Linked DNA regions of Homo sapiens: region 2 is linked to region 1. Evidence: fine-mapped expression QTL. A gene starts in region 1. The other region holds a variant in brackets. All regions are shown on one strand. Distances are from middle to middle. Region 1 holds the start of CDC27 (cell division cycle 27). Region 2 overlaps CDC27 (cell division cycle 27).

What was found.
Region 2: its variant is fine-mapped to the expression of CDC27 in whole blood (TOPMed, PIP above 0.99).

What each region holds. Positions count from the first base shown.
Region 1 is chr17:47,185,524-47,193,860 of GRCh38, reverse strand. It overlaps CDC27 (cell division cycle 27), which reads left to right and starts at 4,566. Exons shown (of 19, transcript NM_001256.6): 1 at 4,566-4,715. The coding sequence starts at 4,689. It also overlaps a transcript of MYL4 not described here. RefSeq lists enhancers at 4,642-4,831, 4,362-4,958 and a silencer at 4,992-5,041.
Region 2 is chr17:47,145,368-47,153,704 of GRCh38, reverse strand. CDC27 (cell division cycle 27) reads left to right here. Exons shown (of 19, transcript NM_001256.6): 9 at 1,787-1,899. Among named protein-coding and RNA genes, the nearest start is that of CDC27, 40 kb to the left of the region's middle. The variant G/T (reference allele first, on the strand shown) is at 3,729.

The DNA of each region.
Region 1 (8,337 bases):
TCGCTTGAACCTGGGAGGTGGAGGTTGCAGCGGGCTGAGATCACACCACTGCACTCCAGCCTGGGTGACAGAGTGAGACTCTGTCTCAAAAGAAAGGAAAGAGAAAGAAAAAGGAAGAAAGAAAGAAAGGAAGGAAGGAAGGAAGGAAAGAAAGAAAGAAAGGATAGTTTTGCCTAAGAAGAATGTGTAGGGTGGGTGAGAAGAAGGCCTAGAACAGGTCCTTGAAGCATGCTTAATATTAAAGGGGCTGGCAGAGGAGCTGCAAAGGAAACCGATTAAAAAACAGAGCAGTAGGCCAGGCGCAGTGGCTCATGCCTGTAATCCCAGCATTTTGGAAGGCTGAGGCAGGCAGATCACTTGAGGTCAAGAGTTCGAGACCAGCCCAGCCAACATGGCGAAACTCCGTCTCTACTGAAAATACAAAAATTAGCTGGGTGTGGTGGCGCACACCTGTAAATTCAGCTACTCAGGGGGCTGAGGCAGGAGAATCGCTTGAACCCAGGAGACGGAGGCTGCAGTGAGCCGAGATAGCGCCATTGCACTCCAGCCTGGGTGACAGAGCGAGACTCTCTCAAACAAACAAACAAACAAAAACAGAGCAGTAGGAGGAAAGCTAGGAGATGGTGTCATTAGAGAAGCCAAAAGAAGAGGATGATTTGACCAAAGAGTAAACATGGTGAGGGTGGGGTGGGGGTGGTGGGGTGCAAGGTCAGGTAAGGAGGCCATAAAACCGCACGCAACAGGGACAAAATGAAGGGTACAGACAAGGAGGACTGAAAGACTTCAGGAGAGTACACTTACTCTGGGCTATGTTTCAGTGGGACCTACATTTTGCTACTGATATCACGTCTAGCTTTTTGAATAGTTCCCTAAATGCCAGCCTCCAAATCTGACTGAATATGAAATAGACCAAGAAGCAGGCTTAGGAGAAAAAATAATTTTCCAATTCCATTTTTGGAATAATGCTGTTGTAACCCAACTCCACTCACTAGCCAAACATATTGGATAACGGATGACAGCAGGATGCCCAAGTGGTTGATGAATAGCGAGTTTAAGTAGGTCAATTAGGAGCAGAGAAGGAAGTAAAAACACTCCAAAATACCCCATCAAAGTACTTCAAACAATGTGGCTTTGCTGTGGATGAGTAGAAACCACAACAGATGTATTAGCCTGGTCAACAACAATCAGAAAGGAGATGCTTTTTTTTTTTTGAGACACAGTCTTGCACTGTCACCCAGGCTGGAGTGCAGTGGCCCGATCTCAGCTCACCGCAAGCTCCGCCTCCCAGATTCACGCCATTCTCCTGCCTCAGCCTCCCCAGCAGCTGGGGACCACAGGTGCCCACCACCACGCCCGGCCAATTTTTTGTATTTTTAGTAGAGATGGGGTTTCACTGTGTTAGCCAGGATGGTCTCGATCTCCTGACCTTGTGATCTGCCCGCCTTGGCCTCCTAAAGTGCTGGGATTACAGGCGTGAGCCAACGCGCCTGGCCTTTTTTTTTTTTTGAGACGGAGTTTTGCTCTTGTTGCCCAGGCTGGAGAACAATGGCGCAATCTCAGCTCACCGCAACCTCCACCTCCCAGGTTCAAGCGATTCTCCTGCCTCAGCCTCCCAAGTAGCTGGGATTACAGGCATGTGCCACCACGCCCAGCTAATTTGGTATTTTTAGTAGAGACAGGTTTTCTCCATGTTGGTCAGGCTGGTCTGGAACGCCTGACCTCAGGTGATCCGTCTGCATTGGCCTCCCAAAGTGTTGGGATTACAGGCGTGAGCCACCTCACCCAGCCAGGAAATGCTCTTTTTTAGGTTAAAAAAAGAAAAAAGGCTTTAGGCAAATTCTAAGCCTATAAGCCAGAGTGCCAAGCATCAGAGGCTCTTTAAATGCTGACTCTAGATCCATATTTTCACAAAGTATCATCTTTATGTATCCTCTGTGGTAAGGTCCTATATTTAGGTTTACAAAACTCTGCTGCACACATACAAGACTTGGGTTGGCAGCATGTTGTGTGAAAAAGAGCTGAGTCCGTAAATGACCACACAAGTTTAGCATGAGCAAACAGTGTCATGTGACTGCTAAAAAATGTAAATACAGGCTGGGCACAGTGGCTCACACCTGTAATCCCAGCACTTTGGGAGGCCGAGATGGGTGGATCATGAGATCAGGAGTTTGAGACCAGCCTGGCCAACATGGTGAAACCCCGTCTCTACTAAAAATACAAAAATTAACCGGGCGTGGTGGTGCGCACCTGCAATCCCAGCTACTCGGGACGTTGAGACAGGAGAATTGCTTGAACCCCGGAGGCGGAGGACGCAGTCAGCCGAGATTGCGCCATTACACTCCAGCTCTGGGCAACAGAGCAAGACTCAGTCTCGGAAAAAAAAAATGTAAATACAACTGTAGTCCACTTTAATAGACGTGTCCAGATAATAATAGTCCAACTGCATTCTGAATTATTCAGAATAAATCTGGAGTACTGTGTTCAGTTGAAAGGGTCACATTTTAAGAGTGATAGCTCTTACTTATCCCTTTCTTTCCATTCCCAATCTTAGATACTCTCATCTCATATCTAGCGTGGTAGATTGTTTCCAAAGATGACCCAAAAACTCCTCCCATGGCACACGCCCTTTGTGGTGTTACTTTGCCACTCTTCCCATTAAGAAGTAGACTATTCCTCCTGGTGAATCCAGGGTGGCTCTGAGTCTTACTCTGACCAACAAGAAGTGATGCTCACAGGCCTAGGCCTAAGGGACCTCACAGCTTCTATTTTTGCGCACTTTGTTGTCAACCACCAAGTCAAGAAGCTGGAGCTAAACTACTGACTCATAAGAGGCCAGTGTGAAAAGAGAGGTCATGCAGAGAAGAAATGAAGGACCCAGCCAATAGCTACCACTGACACCCTAGACATGTGAGTGAAGCCATCTTGAATCTTTCAGCCCTAGCCAAGCCAGTGCTGGTGATGTTCTTCTATATCTGTGTGACTGTCCAATATGGCAGTCACTAGCCACATACAGGGCTACTGAATCCTTGGAATGTGGCTAGGGCATCTGAAGAACTTCATTTTTAATTTCATTTTAACTTAAACTTTAAATAGCTAATGGCTACTTTCCAGGCCAGTGTAAAAGTCTGTTACCACTCAAGTCATCCAGCATAATCCCGCTAAAGCAACTGGGCACAGGGCAGCCAAAAATCATCTTAGCACCTGCCCTTTAGGGGCTATAAGTATATATACAGTGACAAGACAAGGCGGTGGAGAAGGATGCAGTGTAGCTCTGTCAGCCTTGTTTTTAAAAATGAAAGAAAAAATATCTCCCTCTAACATCACCCAAAGGGAAATTTCCAAGCAATGGAATATATCATGATTCTCACATCTAGCCTAGAGAGCTCCTGACTAGAAAAGTAACTTTCAAAAACTGTTTCCTCATCTGCTGAAAAACAAAATTTAAACAGTCCCCTGGTTCACTCTTTTTGGGGGGAGAAGGGGAGCAGAAAGGAAATATGAGAGAGTCTACATTGCATGCTAGACACGGCCACATTTATAATACATCGAATTCTCTTAATCCTTTTTTTTCAAACTAAGCGAACATAAGTTCAGAGAGGTAATTTGCCAAGGACCTATGACTAGTTAGTGCTAAAGATAAAATTCAAAACCAGGCCTCTGAATTTCCGACCCCCTACTCTTCCCACCACAGCGGAATGCCTCACCTATCAAAAATAAAAATTTCTAATGGCCTATTGAGCTTTTCCATGATCTCTTCACCTAAGTAACTATTTCCAATTAATGCCTTCTTAGCAGACTGATCCCATTTTTCCTCCCTTCACTTTCCTATACTTCTTTTTCCTCTAATTTTACCCATCCTTCAAACTCCATTTTAAACTTTTTTTTCCTTCCATAGAACTTTCCTTATCTTATCACAATTGCCCTCTCTGAATTTTTATATTACTTATAATAGGCACCATATAATATAGCGTTCTCTGTTACACTGCTTTTCCCTTAAATAGACCTTAATCTCCTTGAAGACAGAAGCTATCCTATGTCTTTGGGGAGTGGCAATCTTTCCAAATTTCTTTAGCTTTCCCCCAGAGCCGTGAGTAGATACTTCTGGAATGGACGAATGATCTAAACTCAATAGACAAATACTTGTTGATTCATTAAAGACAGCCCCAAACTCTGCTGTTTCACCCTTTGCTTCATAATCTACAGCACACCAATTAATCCAAAAGGGCTGAGGGGCTAATCCACACTGCAGCCCCGCCACGTAACGCTACCCGCCCGCGCTGTCACGCCACGCCCAGCCTGCTGGTTGCAGATTTGGCGTAGCCCAACCCTGGGACGGCCGATTGGGCGTGGTGTGCGTGGCTGAAGGCGTGGCTGAGAAGAGAAACCTACGCTTTGGGTCAGACTCGGTAGCTTCCGGTAATCTTCGACAATTTCCGGCAACGGTTTTCTCTCTCGTCGACCAACCTCGGGTATTTCCGACTCCCTTCGGGCTTTTCCGTCTGGTTCCCGCTCGGCTTTCTCCACTTCGGGTATTCCCGTGTCCCGCTCGGAAGCACTCGGCAATCGCTCGGCCTCCCCCATCCCCCGGTAACGGTCGCTGGTGAGTTTAAATGAGCAGGGGCTGGCCGGGCCGGAGCCGCTACAGGGGGGGCCTGAGGCACTGCAGAAAGTGGGCCTGAGCCTCGAGGATGACGGTGCTGCAGGAACCCGTCCAGGTAATGATAACCTTCTTCTCTGGGGCTTGGCTGGCAGCCTCGGTCGGGAAGCAGCAGCGTAGGGCCACTCCGCGGCCTGGTGCGGCCTAGGCCCGGCTGCTTCTCCCGCCTCCCCTGCTGCCGTGTCCTGCCTATCTTTAGTCAGTTCGGAGGCCTTGCCCACAGCCTAAGCCGTGTTACCTCTGGCCCTACATTACTTCACCCTTAGCGTGAGCGGCTTCGGCGAAAATAACCGCCTTTCCCGTCCGAGCCAACGTCCGGCCAGCCTTTCCTGTCAGTCCAGGGGCCTGGCTTGACTGGGGGTGGGAGATGAGGGGCCGAAAATGCACCCCAAGCGCTCTCTTGCCTAAAAGATGATCGAGAAGCACATTTGATCGGAGCTTGTGTGATCTTCGTGACGGTAGGGCAAGTTTACGGAGGTTTTTTTTATTTTGTCTTGTATGAGAGGGTGGAGGGAGCGTAGGATCGGTCTTTTTAATACTAATTTCTATTTTGGTAACAGACTTCCTATCCCACGTTTCCTTTCTCGGTGAATTTCCCACCGGACAATGATGGTTTGAGAAGACAACTCCAAGCCTCAGTGCTGAGGCGCAAGCACCAATACCAGGGGAGGAGGTGGAAAGGGCACATTTGGGTTGTTTTCATCCTCTCTGATGGGGATCAGGAGCATTTTGTTGTGCATGTTTATAAGGCATTCAGGAAATGAAACACAAATAATGGTGTTTCTGTCCATTTCACTGCCTTTACACCAGGGTATGCTTTGACGCACAGTGCTGTGTTGCATTAAAGGAACCCTATTGGATTTTAAGTGTGTGATGCGGTGCCAAGTCATTTTCCCCCCTGACATCTGGAGAAACTGTATCTTTTGTGCCTTGGTAATGGACCAGGTCTGGGAGACTTCATCCCACTATATGATCTTTAACTTGATCAGAATTGACCTCTATCAACTGCTGTCATTGAGTCATGGACTTTATTTTGAAGTTATAAAGCAAACTGATTTTTAGAAATTCCTTCATATTGCCCTTAAAAGGCTTGAGGTATCAAACAGTAAATATTTTAATATATCACTACTTTCATATTTATTTCATTTTTCTAAACAGCATGAAATACTCATTTCTTCTAGTTTGGTTTTTTTCTCCAGCTGTTTACATATAGCAGCTATTAGTGTTTGAATTAATAAAACGTAAGATTATATCTTATGAAATTTACCTGTCTGTAAGTTGTATTAGTTTTTCTAGAGCTATTTCCATCCAAATTCTTTTTACCAGTATAGTTTCTTTTAAGATTTTTTTTTATTCTGGCTGTAGATGAGGTAATTATATATATATAATTTTTTAAGGCCTAACATGAACTTAAATAGATAAGCAGATTACTCAAGTTATTTAATTTCTGTTGCATATTCTTATAATTTTGTTTTAATAGTTAATGATTTTTTTTTTTTTGCCTTCTCTGGCCCCAGAAGTCTTCTAAAGTGATAAACTAGTTGCATTGATAGACTATAACCACCATTTAATAATAATTTCAGACTTTATAAAAGCATGGAAGGCCGGGCGTGGTGGCTTACACCTGAAATCCCAGCACTTTGGGAGGCTGAGGCGGGTGGATCACCTGAGGTCAGGAGTTCGAGACCTGCCTGGCCAACACAGTGAAACCCTGTCTCTACTAAAAATATAAAAAATTAGCCAGGCGTGGTGGTGGGCGCCTGTAATCCCAGCTACTTGGGAGGCTGAGGCAGGAGAATTGCCTGAACCCAGGAGATGGAGTTTGCAGTGAGCCGACATGGTCCCGCTGCACTCCAGCCTGGGCGACAGAGTGAGACTCCATCTCAAAATAAATAAATAAATAAAAAATAAAAGCATGGAAAAGAAAAGGAATATGTAGCCTGTTTCTAGATAGTACCCATCAGGTTTCCTGTTTGTCCTTAAAGTACTCTGAGCAGTAATACACTTTGATATTTTTAAGGCTTAAATGTCAAATTTGCTTCTTTTTCATAGCAGCATTGTCCATTAGATTTTTGAGATAGTGGTAGAAAGTTTTAGGATATGACTAGGTGAAAATTTTGGTTGTATAGTATAAGAAGCCATTCAAGAATGGATTTGGAACAGTGAGAAGAACAAGCAACTTTGGCTACAATGATAAAGATCAATGATCAGGGATAGTGCTGCAAATGGGAAAGAATTAGGAAGAGAATAAAAATAGGACAGATATATAAGATACTGTCTTTATTAAAAAAAAAACTATGATGACAGATTGCGTGTATTTGGAAAGCAATGAGAGTAAGTTGGAAAATTGTTCTTTCTTGGAATGCCTCAGAGTTGATGGTATTACTAGGCATAGGAAAAAGTTCACAGAAAATATGAAGAACTGTTTTCTGCATTTTTTTTTCTTTAAAGTTTTAATGTAGAATGGCCAGTCCGATATACCATATATGCCTAAATTAAAACTCCGTCTCAAATTACTACCTCTCAGAAGAGTATTACTTTATATTTGAGTCCTTACAAAAGTCTCACATATGAGGCAGAATTTCTGTCAGTTCTTTTATTTTTAATGGTAACTATTTGGAAAGACACACTAGCCTAAGTGACTTCAGTGAGAGCTTTTTGAATATTTATAAAAGTCACCTGGTGAAATTGGTTTTTAAAAAAGAAGCAAAGAGATTTTATATAGATTTAGCAATTATTCCTAGGGGTAAGACTTCACAGAAGTGTTGGATGAAGTTGTAAATAAGCCTTTCGAAAATTAATTTAATAAGCAATATAGCAATTGGGTACTATATACATGATACTGTTTTAGAGATCATTAGATGGTGAAGGAGTACTCTTGGCTGGGGATAAAATGTTCAGGGACAGCATCTAACATGGATTCAAAGAGTAACATATTTTGGCTACTCAATGAGAAATTTAGATTTAATGTGCATTGGTAATGAATAACCATTATATGAGCAGAAGAGTTTTTGAGCAGAGGAATTATGTAATAAAAGCACCACTTTGGGAATATTTATCTGGTGCTGTTGGAAAGGGAGGAAGAGACAAGAGTTAGACATACAGACTAGTAGAATAATCCAACTGCATGATCATGTAGACCAGGGCTGCTTAATCTGAGCACTATTGACATTTGGGGCAAGCTAATACTTTGTTGGAAGCTGTGCATTGTAGAATGTTTTGTAGCATCCCTGGCTTCTAACCACTGGATGACCCCTCCATTTGTGACAACCAAAAATACCCTCTAGACATTGCTAAATGTTGGGGCATTAATTGGGAGTAAGAAGGCAAAATTGCCCAGAGTAAGAACCACTGACGTGCATCTAAACTAAATCAGTATCCTAGAAATTCAATTATAATGTATAATATGAAATTTCAACAGTGATTTTTTTCTTTGTATCTTCTTACATTGTCTGAAGCCTTTATTATCCATTTATTTTATGGTTTTTAAAAAAGGGCAGCTGACTGGGCACAGTGGCTCACGCTTGTAATCCCAGCACTTTCAGAGGCTGAGGCAGACAGATCACTTGAGCCAAGGAGTTCAAGACCAACAAATAAAATAAAATAAAGACAGCTTTTTTGACAAAAACAAGAACACAAAATGTATAAAAAATTTAACAAAAACAAGTAAACAAATTTTT
Region 2 (8,337 bases), 40 kb after region 1:
GTGAGAATTAAATTAGGTTCTATATATAAAATACCTATTGCCATGCTTCATAAATATTCAAGAAATGGAAGCTAAACAAGTCATACTAATATGTGAATAACAGTTATACTCTCTTTACCTTAATAGAAACATGTTTCTTCTTATAGTTGTTTTTTTACTATTTTACTCCTGAACATCCTTAGAATCTGCAAAAGATTTTTCTATAATAACTCCTTAGTGAGTGATAATAGGAACTCCAAGAATACTTAAAAGGGACTGCAAAATAGTTTGTGTATGGATTGTTTTAAACATTACAGTTATGAAGAAGGCAAAACAAAATGGTAGTTAGCATGCCAGGTGAAGTAGGCCAAAACTAGAAGAGCCATAATAACCATAATAACCAGAGCAAGTTAAGACAGTGGGCAGGCACATGATTTTAGTGCCCAGATAAGATTGCTCTCTCATCCTCTTCTGCCTCTGTTCTCCTCTTACCTTATTACAAGACATTCCCAGAAAAGTCACGCATGTAGGTCTGCATGCAGTGTCAACTGAAAATATCAAACCAGGTATTGAGTGCAGTGTACATAGTTCTTTGATAAATAAGGAAAAGCCAGAGTTGACTTTTGTCCCTTGGATGAATGTAGTGATCCCAATTTGGAAAAGGCGGAGGAAGGCTTATGAAGTTTTATTTTGAAGTGGTGGTACATTAGATGAAAATATTCAGTAGAAAGTTAGTCATAGAGGAAAAAATGTGACCTGCTGATAGAAATAATAATTGAAACTATTAAAATGACCAGGCTCTCCTAGGGAAAGAAAGAGTAGCTAAGGAGAACAGAGTAAACCTAATTTAAAAATAGTAGAAGGATAAAGGGCCAGCAAATGAAGTGGCAGGACAAATAATGTAATGTTTTGGAAGTAACACAAAGTTTCAAAAAGTAGGGCATGATCAGTGATGTTGAATGCAGGAAAGGCTAAAATAAGGTTTTAATATCTGATGAGACAGTGATTATTAGTGATTATTTATAATATGCAGTTTGAGGATTGTGTACAGGACATCAGGGTAACAGTAAGTTTTGAAGAAAATTCTCTGGTAGCCAAAGGGGAAAAACAGTGCACTGATACAATAGTCATAGATCATTTAAAGAAGCTAGATGGTGGAAATGAATAGAAATAAGGGAATAAATTAGAGAAGACTGAAGAGCCAAGCAAAGATTTTTTTTTCTCCAAGGGAACAGAAACCAATTAATGAAGATTAGAAAAACTAAGCAATATTAACTCTAAAGAACAATATCCTTAGGTTTTGGAAAGTAATCAGATGGTTGTTTTTTTAAAATCTACTCCTCTGAACTCCTTTAGAACTGTTACCAAGTGCCAAAGGAGTATAAAATCTTATCGTATTATTATTTTTTTCTGTGTATAATGAGATAAATCATAAATCTTGAGAATTTAGCTGTCTTAAAATTTTTTAGTACTTAACCCCAAATAGAGAAGGTATGTAATAAATGGAGGATGGTCACAATGAGATGAAAAGAATAGCTTCTGGGGATTTTTAGTCTTTGAAACAAAAAGCGAAAGATGAAAAGACATTATAGAGGTAAAAATACTGTGAGATTAAAACAGGGAAATAGACTGATGTTCATACTAATACAACAATAATTAACAATATGATATAAATAGTTTATCTTTAAGGTGACAGTATATTATGGCTGCTTGTATTGAGAAAATGTAGATGGGAGCGTTGTGTTGTCTTTTATCATTTACAGTGCAGCCCATAATTCACAAACCTTAGACTTTTCGTGTTTTACAGTCTGTTGCCAGAATCGGCCAAACTGGAACAAAGTCTGTCTTCTCACAGAGTGGAAATAGCCGAGAGGTAACTCCAATTCTTGCACAAACACAAAGTTCTGGTCCACAAACAAGGTATTTATCATTGTAATTATTCAACTTTTCTTGGCATAAAACTTGATTCTTTACATTTCTTTAATTTAGGCAGATAGTGACTCTCGTGGATTCTAGAATAACTACTGTAAATTTTGAAGATGTAAAATTTGAAACCTCTAACTTACAACACTAATGTAATTTTGAGTTGAGTTTTGTAATGCACAGAAGACAATAGTTAACTAAAGCAGCATTTTAGTTTACTCTGATTGCCTCATGGATTTGTAATTTTCTTCTTATGCACATGACCCTTTCTATAGTTTAGGTACAGATAGGTTTCATACTCCCCTTCCCCACATTATGCATGTCTATAAACAGATTATAAAAATAACAGACAAATAAACTTCAAATAATGAATCTATTTCCACACAGAAATGGTGTTAGATAGGATTTTCTTTTCCTCTTCAAGGACTCAATAGATTATAGCTAACATTTTAAAAGGAAGATACAATTTTCTTTCTCCTTTCTAAAACTGTGAACATGTACCTAAATTTTAAAACAGACATACACACAGGTGTGCATATACCTCCTTGACTATCTAAAAGACCTCTATGTTCCTGTAATGCTCCCAGAATGGTAAGTCTAATCCTCTTGAGTGCCAGCTTGCAGTGATTGCCTGAGGCTCTGTTGTGAGAAGGAACTTGAGACCTCCTGCAAAGCAACATTATATGTAAAAATAATTTCCGATTTGTACATTTCACTTTAGAGTCAAACAAATAGACTAACACTAATAAACATCAGCTCTTTTTTTTATGGAGATGGAGTTTCACTCTTGTTGCCCAAGCTGGAGTGCAGTGGTGTGATCTCGGCCCACCACAACCTCCGCCTCCCGGGTTCAAGTGATTCTCCTGCCTCAGCTTCCTGAGTAGCTGGGATTATAGGCATGTGTCACCACACCCAGCTAATTTTGTATTTTTAGTAAAGACAGGGTTTCTCCATGTTGGTCAGGCTGGTCTCGAACTCCCAACCTCAGGTGATCCGCCTGCCTCAGCCTCCCAAAGTGCTGGGATTACAGGCATGAGCCACCGTGCCTGGCCAACATTCACTCTTAATAATTTTGTGTTCTTTGTATTGTTGATTCCATTTTATCTCCTTAATTGCCTATATTAGTTTTCTAGGGCTGCCATAACAAAGTACCACAACTTAGTGTCTTAAAACAACAGATACTTATTCTCTTACAGTTGTAAAGCCATAAGTCCAAAATCAAGGTGTTGGCAGGGTTGTTCCCCTTCCAAAATCTTTAGAGGAGGATTTTTCCTTGCCTCCTCCAGCTTCTGATAACCCCAGGTGTTCTTTAGCATGTGACAGTATAACTCAGTATCTTCCTCTGTCTTCACATGGTCATCTTCCATGTGTGTTTCTGTATCTAAATTTCCCTCTTGTAAAGACAACAGTTATATTGGATTAGGGTCAACCCAGATATCCTCAGCTTAACTCAATGACATCTGCAAAAACCAAATTTCTGAATAAAATCACATTGACATGTACTGGGGCTTAGGGCTTCAACATATCTTTTGGGGAGGTACAATTCAATATTGCCTTATTAGCAATTGCTCTTTATTTTGTCTTTTTAAAGGTTGTTTGGAGTTTGTAGTAAACATTTTAACTTATCAAGGTTTGCCTTCAAGTAATAGACAATTTCATGTATAGCACAGAACCTTACAATAGTATACTTTCGTGCTCCTCTCTTAGTCTTTATGGGAGGGATGGCTGTAATATATTTAATTTCTATATATGTTATAAACCCCACAGTGCATTATTGTGGTTGTGGTTTCTGCCTTAAACAGTCAGTTGTCTTTTTATAGAGTTTT[G/T]TTTTTGTTTTTGTTTTTGTTTTAGACGGAGTTTCGCTCTGTTACCCAGGCTGTAGTGCAATGGTGCAATCTCGGCTCACTGCAACCTCCACCTCCCCAGTTCAAGCAATGCTACTGCCTCAGCCTCCCATGTAGCTGGGATTACAGGCATGTGCCACCACGCCCGGCTAATTTTTGTATTTTTAGTAGAGACAGGGTTTCACGATGTTGGCCAGGCTAGCGTCAAACTCCTGACCTCAAATGATCCACCCGCCTCAGCCTCCCAAAGTGCTGGGATTACAGGCATGAGCTACCATGCCCAGCTGAAATTTTTTTAAATGAGAAAAAGAAGTCTATTTTATATTTACACACATAACTACAATTTCTGGTGCCCTTTCCTTCTATAGATCCAGATTGCGATCTGATATCATTTTCCTCCACCTTGAAGGACTTCTTTTTAACATTTCTTTTTTTTTTTTTTTTTTTTTAAGACAGAGTCTCACTCTGTCACCAGGCTGAAGTGCAGTGGCACGATCTCGGCTCACTGCAACTTCTGCCACCTGGGTTAAAGCGATTCTCCTGCCTCAGCCTCCCGAGTAGCTGGGACTACAGGTGTGCACCACCACACCCAGCTAATTTTTGTATTTTTAGTAGAAACGGGGTTTCACCATGTTGGCCAGGATGGTCCCGATCTCTTGACCTTGTGATCCTCCTGCCTTGGCCTCCCGAAGTGCTGGGATTACAGTCATGAGCCCCACCGCACCTGGCCTTTTTATCATTTCTTATAGTACGAGTCAGCTGGTAATGAATTTTTTCAGCTTTTGTGGATCAGAAAAAAAGTTCTTATTTCATCTTTATTTTTGAACAATATTTTTACTAGGCAAGAATTTCTTTCTTTTTCTTTTTTTTTTTTTTTTTTTGAGACAGAGTCTTGCTTGTTGCCTGGGCTGGAGTGCAATGGCACAATCTTGGCTCCCTGCAACCTCTGCTTCCCGAGTTCAAGCAATTCTCCTGCCACGGCCTCCCGAGTAGCTGGGATTACAGGCATGTGCTATCATGCTCAGCTAATTTTTGCATTTTTAGTAGAGATTGGCTTTCACCATGTTGGCCAGGCTAGTCTTGAATTCCTGACCTCAGGTGATCGCCCATCTTGGCCTCCCAAAGTGCTGAGATTACAGGCATGAGCCACTACGCCTGGCCAAGAATTTCTAATTGACAATTTTTTTAGGGATGTTGCTTTACTGGTTTTTTGGCTTATATTGTTTCTGACAAGAAATCTGCTGTCAATCTCATTTTTGTTCCTCTATATGTAGTAATATGTCTTTTCTCTGTTTCAAGGTTTTGTTTTTAATTGCTGATTTTAAGCAATTCGATTATGATGTGCTCTAGTGTAGCTTTGTTGTTTCTCGGCCTTTGGATTTATTGAGCTTCTTGGATCTGTGGGTTTATAGTTTTCATAATAGTTGGCTAAATTGGGGGCATTATTTCTTCAAATATTATGTCCATGTCTTACCCTCTCCCTCTGGGACTCCAGGTACTTGTATATTAGATTGCTTGAAGTTGCCCCACAGCTCACTAATTCTTCATTTTTGTTTCCAATCTTTCTCCTCTCCGTGTTTCATTTTGGATAGTGTTTATTGCTATGTCTTCAAATTAATGTTTCTTCAGCAGTGTCAGACCTGTTATTAACCACACCCAGTGTTGTTGGGTTTTTTGTTTTGTTTTGTTTTTTTATTGCAGACATTTGTCTTTCATCTCTAGATTGATTTGGTTTTCTTTCTTTCTTTTTTTTTTTTTTTGAGATAGAGTCTCGCTCTGTTGCCCAGGCTGGAGTGCAGTGGCACAATCTGGCTCACTGCACCCTCCGCCCCTCCTGGGTTCAAGCGATTCTCCTGCCTCAGCCTCCTGAGTAGCTGGGATTACAGGCATGTGCCACTGCGCCCTGCTAATTTTTGTATTTTTAGTAGAGATGGGGTTTCACCATGTTGGTCAGGCTGATCTCAAACTCCTGACTCGTGATCCGCCCACCTTGGCCTCCGAAAGTGCTGGGATTACAGGTGTGAGCCACCGCGCCCAGCCTTTTTTTTTTTTTTTTTTTTGAGACAGGGTCTCACTGTCACCCAGGCTGGAGTGCAGTGATGCTACTATGGCTCACTGTAGCCTCAAACTCCTTGGCTCAAGCGATTCTCTTGCGTTAGCCTCCTGAGTAGCTGGGACTACAGGCACATGCCACCACATGTGGCTGATTATTTTTATTTTTTATTTTTTTGTAGAGACAAGGACAAGGTCTCTATGAGACAAGGTCTTGCTATGTTGTCCAGGCAGATCTTGACCTCCGGGCCTGAAGCAGTCCTGGCTTGGCCTCCCAAAGTGCTGGGCCGACAGGCATGAGCCACCTCATCCAGTCTCTTCTATGTTTTTGAACGTATAGGATGTATTTGTATTTTTTTAATGTTTTTGCCTACTAAGTCTGTTACTTTGTTATTTCTAAGTGTTTCTTATATTACTTTTCCTCTTCATTGTAGATTATATTTTCCTGCTGTTTTCTATGCCTAGTGTTTTTTTTTTTGTTTGTTTGTTTGTTTGTTTGTTTGTTTTTGAGACGGAGTTTCGCTCTGTCGCCCAGGCTGGAGTGCAGTGGCGCGATCTCGACTCACTGCAAGCTCCGCCTCCCGGGTTCACGCCATTCTCCTGCCTCAGCCTCCCGTGTAGCTGGGACTACAGGCGCGCGCCACCATGCCCAGCTAATTTTTGTATTTTTAGTAGAGACGGGGTTTCACCGTGTTAGCCAGGATGGTCTCGATCTCCTGACCTCGTGATCCGCCCGTCTCGGCCTCCCAAAGTGCTGGGATTACAGGCGTGAGCCACCGCGCCCGGCTGCCTAGTGTTTTTTAATTGGATGTCAGTTATTATAAATTTTACTTTTTTTCTTTGAGACAGGGTCTTTTACTCTGATGCCCAGGCTAGAGTACAGTGGTGTGATTATAGCTCAGTGCAGCCTCAAACTCCTGGGCTCAAGAAGTCCTCCCACTTCAGGCTCCTGGGTAGCTGGAACTATAGGCACGTGCCACATATGGCTAATTTTTTTTTAGTTTTGCAGAGATGGGGTCTTGCTGTGTTGCTCAGGCTGTTCTCAAACTCCTGGCCTCAAGCAATCCTCCCACCTCACCCACCCGAGTTGTTGGGATTACAGGTGTGAGCCACTGTGCCTGGCTATAAATTTTACATTGTTGATTACTGGATATTTTTGCATTCCTTTAGGTATTTTAAAGTTTTATTCTGAGATGCAGTAAAGTTGCTTGGAAACAGCTTGATCCCTTCAGGTCTTACCTTTTAAATTTTGTCCAGACAAAAGTAGCCTTAGTCTGGACTAATCTTGTCCCACCATTGAGGAAGTACCCTTTGAGTACTCTCCTCAAAAACCTGTTTAGTATGAGGTTTCTTCACTCTGCCTATTGAAAGTATGAGCTATTCCCAGCTTGGAGTGAGATCCAGTAATTATTCTGTCTGCTTCTTTTCAGTAATACTTTCCCCAGCTTTGGGTAGTTTCTTCACTATAGTACTATAATGTAATTCTGATGCTAACTACCCAAACTTAGCACAGACACCACAGGTTAAGATCACAGTCCCCAACAAGAACTGTCTGAACTGCCCAGTTGTAGGTTCTGGGTTCCCCAGGCCACCCACATTTCTGACCAACTGGCTACAAATTTAAGGATTCCTACTACCCTCTTACATTCAGTAATTTGCTAGAGCACCTCACAGAGTCCAGGAAAGTGCTATACTTAATGATTACAGTTTTATTGTAGATGACATAATTAGGAGATCCATAGGATTAGATATGGGAGGGTCCTGATACAGAGCTTTCATGTCTTCTTTCTGGGCTCACCCTCCCAATGCATCAGTATGTTTACAAACCAGGAATTTGAGCCAAGTTTTGGTGTTCAAAATTTTTATTAGGGTTTTTAAATTATGTAGGTGTGATTGATGGAATCATTGGCCACATGATTGAACTCAATTTCCTTCCCAGAGGAGCTCAGGCTGGTGTTGCTGGCTCAAAGCCCCAGCCCTCTAATCACATGGTTGACTTTTTTTTTTTTGAGACAGAGTTTCGCTGTTGTCGCCCAGGCTGCAATGCAATGGCACGATCTTGGCTCACTGCAACCTCCACCTCCCGGGTTCAAGTGATTACACTTGAACCCGCGAGTGGCTGGGATTACAGGCACCCGCCATCATGCCCAGCTAATTTTTGTATTTTTAGTAGAGATGGGGTTCCACCATGTTGGCCAGGATGATCTCGATCTCTTGACCTCGTGATCCGCCTGCCTTGGCCTGCCAAAGTGCTGGGATTACATGTGTGAGCCACCATGCCCGGCCACATGGTTGACCTTTACAGCACAGCCAGCACCCATCCAGAAAGTATCTAGGAGTTACTTCATTAGCATAAATTCAGGCACGGTCCCAGGAGCTCATAATGAATAACAAAGACATCCCTGTCACTTGAGGAATTCCAAGGACTTAGTAGATCTCAGGAGCCTGGGACGTGGACCAGACAAATTCTTTATTATATAACACTCAAACACCTACACTGATCAATTTTCAACTGAAGACTCTAGGGAAGCCCTCTGCA